4 linked regions of the Homo sapiens genome follow. The protein of the gene in region 3 interacts with the protein of the main gene of each other region in a pairwise test. Each region holds a gene or a part of one and is shown on either strand. Other genes may lie near its edges.

The links. The genes of interacting proteins can lie anywhere in the genome.
Region 1: the proteins of PKN1 (region 3) and CEP70 interact in binary tests that used the Homo sapiens proteins (3 or more experiments, as listed by UniProt).
Region 2: the proteins of PKN1 (region 3) and DYDC1 interact in binary tests that used the Homo sapiens proteins (3 or more experiments, as listed by UniProt).
Region 4: the proteins of PKN1 (region 3) and UBR2 interact in binary tests that used the Homo sapiens proteins (3 or more experiments, as listed by UniProt).

The regions. Positions count from the first base shown.
Region 1 is NC_000003.12:138,503,761-138,507,260, reverse strand, and holds part of CEP70 (centrosomal protein of 70 kDa), read left to right. Parts: intron 1-1,795; coding exon 1,796-1,966; intron 1,967-3,383; coding exon of another isoform or gene 3,384-3,425; exon of another isoform or gene 3,426-3,500.
Region 2 is NC_000010.11:80,353,956-80,357,968, forward strand, and holds the start of DYDC1 (DPY30 domain-containing protein 1), read right to left. Parts: upstream 2,801-4,013; 5' UTR 2,757-2,800; exon of another isoform or gene 2,305-2,756; intron 529-2,304; exon of another isoform or gene 406-528; intron 1-405. UniProt on the Homo sapiens protein: Functions as part of axonemal radial spoke complexes that play an important part in the motility of sperm and cilia. Plays a crucial role during acrosome biogenesis.
Region 3 is NC_000019.10:14,464,306-14,467,805, forward strand, and holds part of PKN1 (serine/threonine-protein kinase N1), read left to right. Parts: intron 1-3,259; coding exon 3,260-3,336; intron 3,337-3,412; coding exon 3,413-3,488; intron 3,489-3,500. UniProt on the Homo sapiens protein: PKC-related serine/threonine-protein kinase involved in various processes such as regulation of the intermediate filaments of the actin cytoskeleton, cell migration, tumor cell invasion and transcription regulation.
Region 4 is NC_000006.12:42,675,529-42,679,028, forward strand, and holds part of UBR2 (E3 ubiquitin-protein ligase UBR2), read left to right. Parts: intron 1-527; coding exon 528-663; intron 664-1,254; coding exon 1,255-1,345; intron 1,346-3,010; coding exon 3,011-3,141; intron 3,142-3,500. UniProt on the Homo sapiens protein: E3 ubiquitin-protein ligase which is a component of the N-end rule pathway.

The DNA.
Region 1 (3,500 bases), on a different chromosome or scaffold from region 3:
GTTGTGTATTTTTAAATTTAGCTCTTGCATATTTCTTGTTAGGAAATACCTTGTTATTTCCTAGGTATTTTATAACTTTTATTGCTATTGTAAATGGGAACCAAGCACCTTTCTGAAAACTGTTTTGTTTTAGACTTTCTTGTACCAGTATATAACTGGATTTCATTTTGTTTCTGAGACTCAATTTGAGAGGCTTTGTCCTTTAAAAGGGGAATTCAAGCCGGGTATGGTGGCTCATGCCTGTAATCTTAACACTTTGGGTGACCGAGGCAGGAGGATTGCTAGAGGGCAGGAGTTTGAGACCAGCCTGGGCAATATAGTGAGACCACATCTCTAGAAAAAAAAAAATTTAATTAGCTGGGCATGGTGGCTTGTGCCTGTAGTCCTAGCACTTGAGAGGTTGACATGGGAAGATCACTTGAGCCCAGGAATTCAACGCTGCAGTGAGCTCCGTTCACACCACTGCACTCCATCTTAGGCTGCAGAGTGAGACTCTGTCAAATAAATATATAAAACAAATATACATACATCAATTTGAAGTGAAATATTGAATTATACTAATTTGGACTTAAAAAGCTTCTAAATAAACATCTGAAGTAATAAACATCTTAAGTCATATTACCAGGAGGCCTATTAGTTATATCTTGAAGTATGACCAGGGACAAAGATTCAAGAGCAAAATGCTATCTTTATATTGTGAAACTTTTTATTAAATAGGCTGAACTTGATGGTGGTAATAGGAAATGGCTTTATTCTTCTCTCTTTAAACATGCTTTTTGAGGTCTCCCTTTTTTTCCTCGGATGATATGTAAGGTAGAACCCATCACTTATGGGGAGAGGGTTATAGTCAAATAGTATACTATCTTAATATATTAAGATACCTAAAATTCAATCCAGGCATCAATGATATTATTTTTGGAGACAGGGTCTTGCTCTGTTGCCCAGGCTGAAGTGCATTATCATAGCTCACTGCAGCCTTGAATTCCTGGGCTCAAGTGATCCTCCTGCCTCAACCTCCCAAAGTGCTGGGATTACAGGCATGAGCCACCACACTCAGCCTGGGGATTGCTGTTAATTTCCTTAAATAGTCTGATAATGTTCTTGTGAGTTTGTAGGAGAATATGCCTACTTTTAAAAGATGCATGCTTTATTATTTGAGGGTGAAGAGTTTCTTCAAATGGTTCACCTAAAAATATAGATAGTGAGCAAATATGGCAAAATACTAACAATTTTTGAACCTAGGTAGTGTTTGTAATAGTTAATTTTGTTTCAACTTTACTGCGGCATAGGATGCCCGATATTTGGTTAAACATTATTCTGGATGTGTCTGGGAAGGTGCTTCTGGATGAGATTGACATCCGAATCAGTAGACTTTAGTAAATCAGACTGCCTTTCCTAATGGGGTGGGCCTCATCCAATGATTCAAAGCCCTGAGTAGAACAAAAGGCTGAATAAGAGGGAGCTCCTCCTCCCTGACTGCTTTCAAGATGGGACACTGGTTTTTTTCTTGCCTTCAGACTCAAACTGAAACATTAGCACTTGCAGGGGTCTCAGTCTGCCTGCATTTGGACTGCAAATACCCATTACCTTTTCTGGGTCTTCGCTTACTCACTGCAGATCTTGGGACTTGTCAGTCTTCATAATTGCATGAGCCAATTCCTTATGATAATTTTCTTTGTATATTTAATGAAATATGTGTATATAATATATATAGACATAAAGCACTCCTTTAAAATATATAACTTTGTAGGCATAGGATAAATATTTTGACTATATACACTATGTTTTTTTAAAGGTGCTGTGTAGCATCAATTCAATTATCCACAATCCAAGAGCTCCAGTAATAATTTATAAACAGACCAAAGGGGGAGTCCAAAATTTTAATAAAGATCTTGTTCAAGATTGTGGATTTGAGCATCTTGTTCCTGTAATAGAAATGTGGGCAGATCAACTGACATCCTTAAAGGTAAGGGGTTGACTATGATTATATGCTTTGAACATCTATTGGACTCTATGTGCTTTATTAATAGGACTTAATTCAGGGCTAAAAATTAAATAGGGTTTAATTTTTTTGTTTGTGTGTTAACTCTAAAGCTAAAAAAGCTTATTATCTAAAACCGAAATCTTCCTACTTACATATCTATTTTAGGTACTGTCTATTTGATGTTGTCATTACTGTAAGCTTTACCTCCTCTAAGATTCTACCAAACAAGAAATTTTGGGGTTAGTTTCCTTATTGAAAATCTATAGTGGATCCACTTTGTACTTCTAGGCCCTTCCCTGTTCTACCTTCATCTGCCTCCTTTTCATATCTCCATGCTGCGATTTTCCTGGCCCTTATCCCTCTTCAGATATAATGTCTTATCCTTCATTTTATTATAATTGGGGATATTTTCTCTCTCTTCACACTTTATTTTCTGTCTCTCAGAACTGAGCTTATCTCCATTTCTGCTTATTCTCTAGAACAGATAGTAAGCTAGCAGCCAACGCTACCCTTCCCTATCCTATCTCTTCATGGAAGACCACATTTTATTTATAGAGTTATTGTGTATTTATTGCATAGCTTCAGGTTTTTTCAGTTTTTGTTAACTAGTTTGCTGAAAGGTAAATAGTTGAAATCAGTAGTATTTAACTTCTTTGCCCTTTACACTTTAGATTTATTAGTAACTAATATAATACATAGCATATGCCTGTTAATGAAAATGTGATTCAATAACAGTGTTTGCAACATAAGTCTTATTACATGAAGTACAAATGATGCAGAAGATATCTGTTAAGAATGTATAAGCTCCATGAAGACAGTGTTTTTATTTGTTCTGATATGTCCCCAAGATCCTCCTGATGAATGAGTGCTCAATTAATATTTGTTAAAAGGAATGAAGCAGAATATTATATTCCAAGACAACAAAATTGGGGGTGGTGATGTTAATTTTTTTTAAATTTCGACTTCCCTTTTTATATAGGGCTCAGACAGAGCTATACAATACATAAACATTTTGATTGAGTGACAGTGCTAGATTAATATACTTACTTTATAGACCGGAGTTCCTCCAGTCTGTATCTCAGAAGAGTGTAAAATAATTAGTAATAGTGTAAATCATGGTATTTCCTCAATCACTGCCTGTCAGAGGGTTCTCCCAGTAGGAGGAAACAGTGCTGACTCCACCTTTCTTCATCTCAGAAGGGATGGACTAGAAAAAGCCCTAGCCTTCCTAGAAGAAAAGACTAGAAGAGGAAGAAGACAAAGGGAAGAATCACACTAATGGATAGTTATTGATCGTTTATCATGCTAAGCCATTATGGGATGAACACAAGATTCAGACTAATTAGACAAAATATACTAAAAAATATGAAACAAAATGTAATCATTTATATCGTTAAAGGAAATGAGTGACATAAAAATAGATTACCGGTTGAAGTTCTGAGTGAATGATGCAGATAACTTGTGCTCTAGAGTCTGGAGGAGAAAGAGAACACTCTGATTGTAGCCCCCAAGAAGG
Region 2 (4,013 bases), on a different chromosome or scaffold from region 3:
ATACAAACAAATTAGCTGGGCGTGGTGGCGGGCGCCTGTAGTCCCAGCTACTTGGGAGGCTGAGGCAGGAGAATGGGGTGAACCTGGGAGGCGGAGCTTGCAGTGAGCCAAGATCGTGCCACTGCACTCCAGCCTGGGCGACAGAGTGAGACTCTGTCTCATATATAAAAAAAAATATATATATATATATTTTTTCCTGAGAATCTGATGAAATGTAATCAATTGTTAAACAAATGTATAATGAATATTTGCCGGGCACAGTGGCTCACACCTGTAATCCTAGCACTTTGGGAGGCTGAGGTGGGTGGATCACCTGAGGTCAGGAGTTCGAGACCAGCCTGGCCACAATAGTGAAATGCTGTCTCTACTAAAAATACAAAATTATCTGGGCGTGGTGGCACATACCTGTAATCCCAGCTACTTGGAAGGCTGAGGCAGGAGAATCACTTGAACCCGGGAGGCAGAGGTTGCAGTGAGCTGAGATTGTGCCATTGCACTCCAGCCTGGGCAACAAGAGTGAAACTTCGTCTCAAAAAAAAAAAAAAAAAAAAGAATACCTATTATAGGTCAGGCACCATGATAGGTACTGGGAATACAAAACTATTGTGAATTGAATATCTGTGTCCCCCAAAAATCCATATGTTGAAATCCTAACTCCCAATGTGATGGTATTAGGAGCCTTTGGGAAGTGATTAGATCATTAGTGTGGAGCCGTCATGCATGGGATTAATGCCCTTATAAAAAGAGATGGGAGAGCGTGCTCTCACTCTCTGCCATCTGAGAATAAAACTAGAAGACAGCCACCTGCACACCAGCCAGAGGGTCCTCACCAGACACCAGAAATGCCAATGCCTTGATTTTAGACTTCCCAGCCTCCAGAATGGTGAGAAATAAATGTGTATTGTTTTTAAGCCACCCAGTGTTGGTAATTTGCTACAGCAGCGCAAACTAAAACAAAAACAGTCTCTGCCTTCATGGAGCTTATAGATGAGAAAGGAAGATAAATATTTAAATCAATAAATATGAAATTGCAGTTAAAATAAGTACTATGAGACCAGACAAGAGGAGTAGCTGATCAAGTCAGGAAAGTAAAAAAAAAGCTTCTTTGGGGGTGACATTTGAGCTAAGCTTACATTTACTGAAAAAAAAAAACAGTAAAATTAACACGACAAAGAAGAGAAGAGTCTTCTAGGTATGAGGAAAGGCCCTGATATAGGAATGAGCATGGCAATTACAGGGGATAGAATGCCACTGTGTCTAAACTTGTCCCTGGACAAATGCATCTAGCATTTTGCATAAAATTTCAGAGACAGTGACATCCTGGGGTCCGTCCATAACCCCCAATTTTTATTCTATGGATGAACCCCAGGATGTCAGTGTCTCTGAAATTTTATGCCATAACTATGTGCATATGCCATATGACAGTGGTGGGAGGGCAAAATGGTATAACTCCTATGGAGGAGAATTTGACAACATCTAGAAAATCACATATGCATTCACCCTTTGACTCATCAATCTTGCTTCTTGGATCCTATCTCAAAGATATAGTTGCAAAAATATGAAATGGCATATGCACACAGTTATTTGCAGCATTATTTACAATAGTCACACTGAAGCACCATCTAAATGTTCATCAAATTGGGGATTAATAAGAGCAACACAATGGATTATTATGCAGATGTACAAGAGAATGAAGAAACTAGAGAGTGATCTCTAAGACACAGAATAAAGAAAACGAGGTGCTGAAATTGTATATGGTCTGTCATCTTTTGTATTAGCAACAGCAGTGGGGAAAGGAATGTGTATGTGTGTATATGTAAACATAGTCATAAAAACTCTAAAAACGGAAAACAAACTGGCACAAATGAACCTAATTCCAAATGAGGTTGATATTGGTGTCTCAACCATACAGAGAAAAGAATTATTACAACTGACTTTGGAACACAGTATCTTCACTGTATTTCTTCAGTAGGATATACCTGAAAGACCAAAACGCTACACAGACATCTCAAAGTCATTTGAAGTGAAGTTAAAAAAAAAAAAAAAAAAAGGTGCACAGACTCCTGTTGCTGCTCCAGAAGGATAAAATGTGGGAAGGGAGGAAGGGGACCATTATCCCTAAAGAGAAAACTTCTGGCCTACCAGCGGGGCCAGGTCAGGGGAGGCTCTGTCTCGGATTTCTGGGCATATCAGTGGGACCCAGGCAAGGCCTGCCAACTCCCTTAGCATGTTCCTGTCTGTGAAACGAGGATAATACCCATCTCTCCTGTGGTAAGCAATGTTATTTTTCACATACACCAATAGGCATCTTGGCTCAACATAAGAAAGCCCTTTCCCACAGAAACAGCTGCCTCCAGCGTGAAGAAGGTGCCACAGAGATGGAAGGAGATTCCTTACCCACACCTGGGAGACAGCTAGCCAGCCAGCCAGCCAACTGGGCGGGGGCACCCGGGCAGGGGTGCCAGATACAGTATTGTATCTGGCAACCTCCCGGGGCGCTCAGTGTGGTTTTCCCACCCGGGAGTCTGGAAGGGTCTCCCGCAGCCCGCAGGAGACGCAGCGCTCCCCGCTCAGGGGGAGCAGGAGGACAGCTGGCCGCTTTCGGGAGCCCCAGGCGCGAAGCGGCCTCTCTCCGCCTCAGGTGAGTCCTGCTCGACGCCCAAGGCCCAACGGTCAGAACCGCCTCTGCCCGCCGGACCCAGCGAAGCTAGGGGAACAAATCCCAAAAACAGTTCGGGCCTTTCCGGTGCGCTCACCCCTACACACGCGCCTGCTCGCCACCCAGGAGCGGCGTCCCGTTGCCAGGCAACGAGAGCTCGCGCCTCAGGAGCCAGTGTAGGCGCCGCAAAGCGGAAGGGGCGCGCGGATAGGTGAGCAGAGGGCACGCGGTGGGCAGCGAAGGGGGAACGCGCAGCAGAGAGGAGAGGGCGTGCAGGAGTAGGAGCAGGCGGCAGAGTAGAGGGGGCGCGGCAGAGTAGAGGGGGCGCGGCAGAGTGGAGGGGGCGTGCAGGAGTAGGAGCCCGCCGCAGAGTAGAGGGGGCGCGGCAGAGAGGAGGGGGCGTGCAGGCGCGGGGCGCCCGGCAGAGAGAAGGGGTCGTGCGGAAGGGGGCGCGCGCCAGGGGAGGGGGCCAGAGAGGAGGGGGCGTTCAGGAGTCGGGCCTGCGGCAGAGATGAGGCGGTGTGCAGGAGGGAGAGCGCGCACGAGGGGGCAACGGGCAGAGAGGAGAGGGAATGAAAGAAGGGGAGCGTGGCAGAGAGAAGCGGGCGCGCTCCAGGGGGCGGGGTCCAGGGAGGAGGGGGAGCGTAGGATCGGGGCGGGAGGCAGAGAGGAGCGGGCACGCGGGACGGGCGTGTGCTCGTGAGGGGTCGAGGAAAGGCGTATGTGGAGGCGCGCGGGGTGGGTGAGCCGAGGAGACTTGCTACACAGAAACCTGGAGGAGTAGGGGCACACAAAAGAGCAAGGGACCCTGACTGGCAGCCCGGCATGCTCTGGGAGAGACAAAGAGGTGGCGGGCTTTGAGGAGGAACCAGGAAGGGCAGCCAATCGGAAAAGGGTGGAAGACCTTCCAGAGTCCCTGGAAGACCGTCACTGCAAGCTGCTAATAGCTTGGCAGTTTCACAACTCTGCACCTTTGCTCTTGCTGGTGACCTCTGCTTGGTTCCTTTCAGAACCAATTCGGGTGCCCCACCACCGGGAAGCCGTCCAGTCTCCACCAGGCCCAAACCCTTGCAGTCTTCCCTGGCCTAGTCGTCTGTGCATGTGCTAGCCTTTCCTGTGCTCTCTTTCAGCTTATGGGCGGGGCAGTGCCAGGCAAGAGAGGCCTTAATAGATGTTAGTTGAGCTAGTAAATGCCAGATTGGGCGTGGAAAAATCAAAGGGAAGCATGAGGGCAGGTGGCAGAACTCTCTCAATGAATAAGTCAAGAAATATTTACAGAGCTCCCAGTGTGCCAAGCGTGGGCGGTATACAGTAAACAAAGACAACCCCTATTCTTATCACCTTGCCTACTGAG
Region 3 (3,500 bases):
GCCCAGATCCCCATCCTGGTTAAAAAACTGCTCATGCCTATAATCTCAGCACTTCTGGGAGGCTGACATGGGAGGATTGCTGGAGCCCAGGAGTTTGAGACCAGCCTGGGCAACACAGTGAGCCACTGTGAGCCATGATCCTGCCACTGCACTCCAGCCTGGGCAACATAGCGAAATACTATCTCAAAAAACAAAACAGGCTGGGCACAGTGGCTCACACCTGGAATCCCAGCACTTTGGGAGGCTGAGGCGGGTGGATCACTTGAGGCCAGGAGTTCAAGACCAGCCTGGCCAACACAATGAAACCCCGTCTCTAATAAAAATACAAGAATTAGCCGGGTACGGTGGTGGGCACCTGTAATCCCAGCTACCCGGGCAACTGGGGCAGGAGGATCAGTTGAACCTGAGAGGCGGAGGTTGCAGTAAGCCAAGATCATACCAATTGCGCTCCAGCCTGGGCGACAGAGCGACTCCATCTCAAAAAATAAAAATAAATAAAACTGTGAGCTCAGCGGCTGGACCCCCTGGGTTCCCACCCCTGCCGTGCCACCTCTTGGCTCTGCGCTTCACCTCTGTGCCTCAGTGTACCACTTTGCAAAACGAGCATATTTAAAACTCATGTCAATGATAGAATGATCGAGAGAGTGCTGTTCTCTAGGCAGAGGTTACCGCAAGCTGGGAGCCACAAGGGGACCTGCCGGGTGATGGAAATGTTCCTTATCTTGATCTCGGTCAGAGGTCAGCACGCGTTTTCCAGAAAGGGCCAGAGAGTCAATATTTTTGGCTTTGTGGGCTAGACAGTCCCTGTCTGCTTTGTAGTTTGAAAGCAGCCACAGACGATATATGTACACTGTAAGCGTGTCTCTATTCCAGTAAAACCTTATTGGTAGTACACGCGGAAGTTTGAACATTGTAGAACTTTCATGGGCAATGAAATATTATTCCTTTTTTTGTTTTTTTTTATTCCCCCAACGATTTAAAAATGTAAAAATCAGTTTACCTGTGGTCCCAGCTACTTGGGAGGCCGAGGCAGGAGGATGACTTGAGCCCAGGAGTTGGAGTCTGGCCTGAACAACATGGCAAAACTCCATCTCTTTTTTTTTTTTTTTTGAGATGGAGTCTCACTCTGTTGCCCAGGCTGGAGTGCAGTGGCGTGATCTAGGCTCACTGCAACCTCTGCCTCCCAGGTTCAAGGGATTCTCCTGCCTCAACCACCCGAGTAGCTGGGACTACAGGTGTGTGCCCACCACACCCAGCTAATTTTTGTATTTTTAATAGAGACGGGGTTTCACCTCGTTGGCCAGGCTGGTCTTGAACTCCTGACCTCAGATGATCTGCCCACCTCAGCCTCCCAAAGTGCTGGGATTATAGGTGTGAGTCACCATGCCCGGCCACTGCATCTCTTAAAAAAAAAAAAAATAGTGAAAGCCATTCTTAGCTCTTACAAACTATAAAAACAGGCTGGCCCACCAGCCAGCATTTGCCAACTCCTAGGCTGGCTGATGGTTTCCTGGGTGGATGCATATGTAACCTGTTCCTCTTGCCCACCTCACTGAATGCATTTTATTTATTTATTTATTTTGAGACAGAGTCTCACTCTGTCGCCCAGAATGGGCGTTGGAATGCAGTGGCGTGATCTCAGCTCACTCCAATCTCCGCCTCTCAGGTTCAAAGATGCCCATGCCTCAGCCTCCCTAATAGCTGGGACTACAGGCATGTGCCATCATGCCCAACTAATTTTTGGTTTTAGTAGAGATGGGGTTTCACCATGTTGGCCAGGCTGGTCTTGAACTCCTGACCTCAAGTGTTCTCCCCTCTGCAGCCTCCCAAATTGCTGAGATACAGGTATGAGCTACTGCACCCAGCCTGAATGCATTTTATCTTTTATCTTTTTTTTTTGAAACGGGGTCTCGCTCTGCCATCCAGGGTGGAGTGCAGTGGCGCAGTCATGGCTCGCTGCAGCCTCGACCTCCTGAGCTCAGGTGATCCTCTCACTTCAGCCTCCCAAGTAACTGGGACTACAGGCGTGCACCACCACACCTGGCTAATTTTTTATAGATCTAATTTTTTAGAAAGTAGAAGTAATGGGTTGGGCATGGTGGCTCACGCCTGTAATCCCAGCACTTTGGAGTCAAGAGATCAAGACTATCCTGGCTAACATGGTGAAATCCCATCTCTACTAAAAATACAAAAATTAGCCGGGCGTGGTGGCGCACGCCTGTAATCCCAGCTACTTGGGAGGCTGAGGCAGGAGAATTGCTGGAATCTGGGAGGCGGAGGTTGCAGTGAGCTGAGATCACACCACTGTACCCCAGCCTGGGCGACAGAGTGAGACTCAGTCTCAAAAATAAAAAAAATAATAATAAAAAATGGACATTGTCAAGCCAGGCATGATGGCTTGCACTTGTAGTCCCAGCTACTCAGGAAGCTGAACGAAGAAGATCGCTTGAGGCCAGAAGTTTGAGACCAGCCTGAGGAACAGAACAAGACCCCATCTCTACAAAAATTAGGCCGGGCGCGGTGGCTGACGCCTGTAATCCCAGCACTTTGGGAGGCTGAGGCAGGTGGATCACCTCAGGTCGGGAGTTGAAGACCACCCTGACCAACATGGAGAAACCCCATCTCTACTAAAAATATAAAAAATTAGCCGGGCGTAGTGGTGCATGCCTGTAATCCCAGCTGTTTGGGAGGCTGAGGTAGGAGAATCACTTGAATCCGGGAGGCGGAGGTTGCAGTGAGCGAAGATCACACCATTGTACTCCAGCCTGGGCAACAAGAGTGAAACTCCATCTCAAAAAAAAAAAAAATGAGCTGGACGTGGTGGTGCATGCCTTTAGTCCCAGCTACTCAGGAGGCGGAGGTAGAGTTGGAGGCTGCACTGAGCTATGACTGCGCCCCTGCACTCCATCCTGGAAGACAGAGCAAGACCCTGTCTCTAAAAAAAAAAATTCAGGTTGGGCATGGTGGCTCACGCCTGTAATCCTGGCACTTTGGGAGGCCGAGGCGGGTGGATCACCTGAGATCAGGAGTTCCAGACCAGCCTGGCCAACATGGTGAAACCCCGTCTCTACTAAAAATACAAAAATTAGCCAGCCATGGTGGTGCAGGCGTGTGGCTGGAGGAGAGTGAGTGAGGGGCTGCGTGGGAGGAGAGGTGAGGACAGAGAGGTCGGGGGCAGATCTTGCAGGGCCTCGGAGGCTGCTGTGGTTATGAGGGCATCTCTGACTCCCCTTACTCTGGCCTCCTCTCTCCGCCACAGAGCTCCCCCATCCAGGAATCCACTGCTCCCGAGCTGCCTTCGGAGACCCAGGAGACCCCAGGCCCCGCCCTGTGCAGGTGACACCACTCCCTGGCCCCCTGTCCACCACCCCTGCCCGCTGTCCTTGTTCTCACCAGTGGCCTCTCTCCACAGCCCTCTGAGGAAGTCACCTCTGACCCTCGAAGATTTCAAGTTCCTGGCGGTGCTGGGCCGGGGTCATTTTGGGAAGGTGAGGTGGAGG
Region 4 (3,500 bases), on a different chromosome or scaffold from region 3:
AGTGCCCATCAAGAGTCCTGTAACTCAAGTCATTTCATGTAGCCAGTCCTATTGGATTTTCCAACATGGATGCCCTTTCTTTAAGAACAAAGATTTCTTAAAGGGAGGAGCTGAACTCAGGAGGGATCACAGTAAGAAAATGGAAATGTGACCAGGCGCGGTGGCTCACGCCTGTAATCCCAGCACTTTGGGAGGCCGAGGTGGGCGGATTACCTGAGGTCAGGAGTTCGAGACCAGCCTGGCCAACGTGGCAAAACCTCATCTCTACTAAAAATACAAAAAGTCGGGCATGATGTTGCACGCCTGTAATCCCAGCTACTCAGGAGGCTGAGGCAGGAGAATCGCTTGAACCCAGGAGGTGGATGTTGCAGTGAACCGAGGTTGCGCCATTGCACTCCAGCCTGGGCAACAGAGTAAGACTCTGTCTCAAAAAAAAAATCAAAATAAAAGTAAAAGTAAGAAGATGGAAATTTGCTTAGCTGTGAAAGGAAAGGCGATCTGTCTGATGTCCTGTGTTTGGTGCCTAGGTGGGCTTGGTGCTTGCATTTCCTGCGTTGCAGTGTCAGGATTTTTCAGGGATCAGCCTTGGCACTGGAGACCTTCACATTTTCCATCTGGTTACTATGGCACACATCATACAGATCTTACTTACCTCATGTACAGGTAACTCTTGCCTTTTTGTCAGTTTCTTGAAGGAAATACTTGAGTTTTCTGAGTTTTAAAAAAAGTATTAGAGGAAAAGGTATTTGGATGAGAATAACACATGAATAAGGCTGTTTTTTTCTGTGTATCTTCATATGAAAAGTTTTGAAACATTTCTTTCTCCTCTTAAAATTTCCTAGTAATGTGAATGTTTCTAGTTTTAATTTCATACATTCAGTAATATTTGTGTAGAATAGTAATTAAATCTTTTAGAATCTTATGTTTTAGAATGCCAATTTTGTTTTAACTTACATGTTTGTTAATGCCCACATGAATTCATCATTAAATTACGTTTTGCATTCAAAATTCTTGTTTTTCATACACTTTAAGACTATATTTATTTGATTTTACTTAAAACATGCCAGCTGGCTGTTTGGTTTGATTGAGATCAATACTGTGCTCCCACTTGAGGGATTACAATTTTGCATGTTTTCTAGGAATACTTCATGTTATATGTGAGTTTATGAATATATTTGCATGCTTAATGTCTTCAGTCCTTTTGATAACACTTAATTGGAAAATACAGAGTACTAGTATTTCCTTATCTTTCAGAAGAGAATGGCATGGATCAAGAAAATCCCCCTTGTGAAGAAGAATCAGCAGTTCTTGCTTTGTATAAAACACTTCACCAGTATACGGGAAGGTGAGTTAGTTATCTTTACATAACGCATTTCCCTAAATATTGCTAGATGATGATAGCATGAGAAAGGAATTCGTTTGTTAATTAGGGGAATTTGTTGTCTGTTGACATGTTTTTAAAATAAGACGTGGAGTGATCTGCAGAGCCTTTCTGAACTATTCATATACTAACATAATTGGAAATCTGGGAGAAAGGTGATAATATGCAGAGCTTCCCACATTTATTTGGCTGTGGAACCCTTCATTTGCTCAGGGATCTGGCAGAGACTAGAGGATAGATCAAATGTACTTTGGAAAGTTGATACTCTAAAACTTATGTTGTCTCATTCAGAATGGGAATTTAAAACTGCAAGTTAAATTGGCATAATTTATTTTTAAGGTAATATTCAGTAGTAGCAGGAATAAAATGAAATTATTAGAATTCCATGTATGGTTAGAGTCATGATTTGCTACAAATAGCAATTCAGTAGTTTGCTTAGCTTTCAACAGTATATATGTCAAGAATCTGTAGTCAGGAACCTATAAAAATGTCTGTTTTTTGACTATCCCATTTCTGAGAACCTACATTAACAAAATAATTCAACATATAGAAAAAAAACATATAGGCATATAAAGATGGACACTCCAGCCAGGCACGGTGTCTCACCCCTATAATCCCAGCACTTTGGGAGAATGAGGCTGGCAGATTGCTTGAGCCCAGGCATTTGAGACCAGCCTGGCCAACATGGTGAAACCCTGTCTCTACCAAAAAATACAAAAATTAGCCAGGCATGGTAGCATGTGCCTGTGGTTCTATCTTCTCAGGAGGTTGAGGTAGTCAGATCACCCAGGCAGGTGAAGGCTGCAGTGAGCCATCACACCACTGCACTCCAGACTGGACAAAAGAGTGAGACCCTGTCTCAAAAAGAAAAAGATGTACACTCTGATATTATTTATATTAGCAAATAATTGAAAGCAATCTAAGTGTTTGCAGGGGAATAGTTTGATATAGTGATGAATGTGTTCCAAAATATTATAAATCTATTTAAAATATGGCTCCTAGGAGCTGGGTGCAGTGGCATGTGCCTGTAGTCCCAGCTGCTCAGGAGGCTGAGGTGGGAGGATTGCTGGAGCCCAGTAGTTTGAGTCCAGCCTGGACAACTTTTCATTTTCCACATTTTCTCTTTATGTCACTATGTTACTTTTATAAATTTTAATAACATCACACCTGTAATCCCAGCACTTTGGGAGGCCAAGGCGGGCAGATCACAAGATCAGGAGATCGAGACCATCCTGGCTAACACAGCGAAACCCCGTCTCTACTAAAAATACAAAAAATTAGCCGGGCGTGGTGGCAGGCACCTGTAGTCCCAGCTACTCAGGAGGCTGAGGCAGGAGAATGGCGTGAACCCAGGAGGCAGAGCTTGCAGTGAGCCGAGATTGTGCCACTGCACTCCAGCCTGGGCGACAGAGCGAGACTCCGTCTCAAAAAATTTAATAACAGCATTGGAGGCTGTGTCACCACTTACACCTGGCATCCTATAATAACACACACCCACTTGCCTGTTAACTCACAACTTTTAAGCATACATGCCATCAGTTCCAAATGACAGTCAAGTCTGTTTTCACACTATAAGTACAGTGACCTTTTCTTAGTAGATTTCCCAATAATCTTTTTTTTCTTTTTTAGTGCCTTGAAAGAAATACCATCCGGCTGGCATCTGTGGAGGAGTGTCAGAGCTGGAATCATGCCTTTCCTGAAGTGTTCTGCTTTATTTTTTCATTACTTAAATGGAGTTCCTTCCCCACCCGACATTCAAGGTAATTTATACTTTCTTTCAAAACGTAGGGAGAGTTAGTAATCCTTTACTCCAGCAAATATAAAGATCACTTGCAAAAATGAAAATTGACTAAAAGTTCAAAGAATAGCTTATTGACTATGGTGATGTACACATTTATAGCATAAAATGTATGTTTATGCATATGTCTCCATTTATTTGGATCTCAGTAAATGACTGTTAAACTTCTGTGTAAATGTTTTTACACCTGCAAAGCCCTTCTCCCGTAAAGATCATAGTTTTGCTTTCAGATGTTAAAATGTTCAGTTATGTATTATTCATAAACAAGGTTCCTCAGATTTGAAAAGGTGAAAACTGACAATTTCAAGTGATTTTTAACTT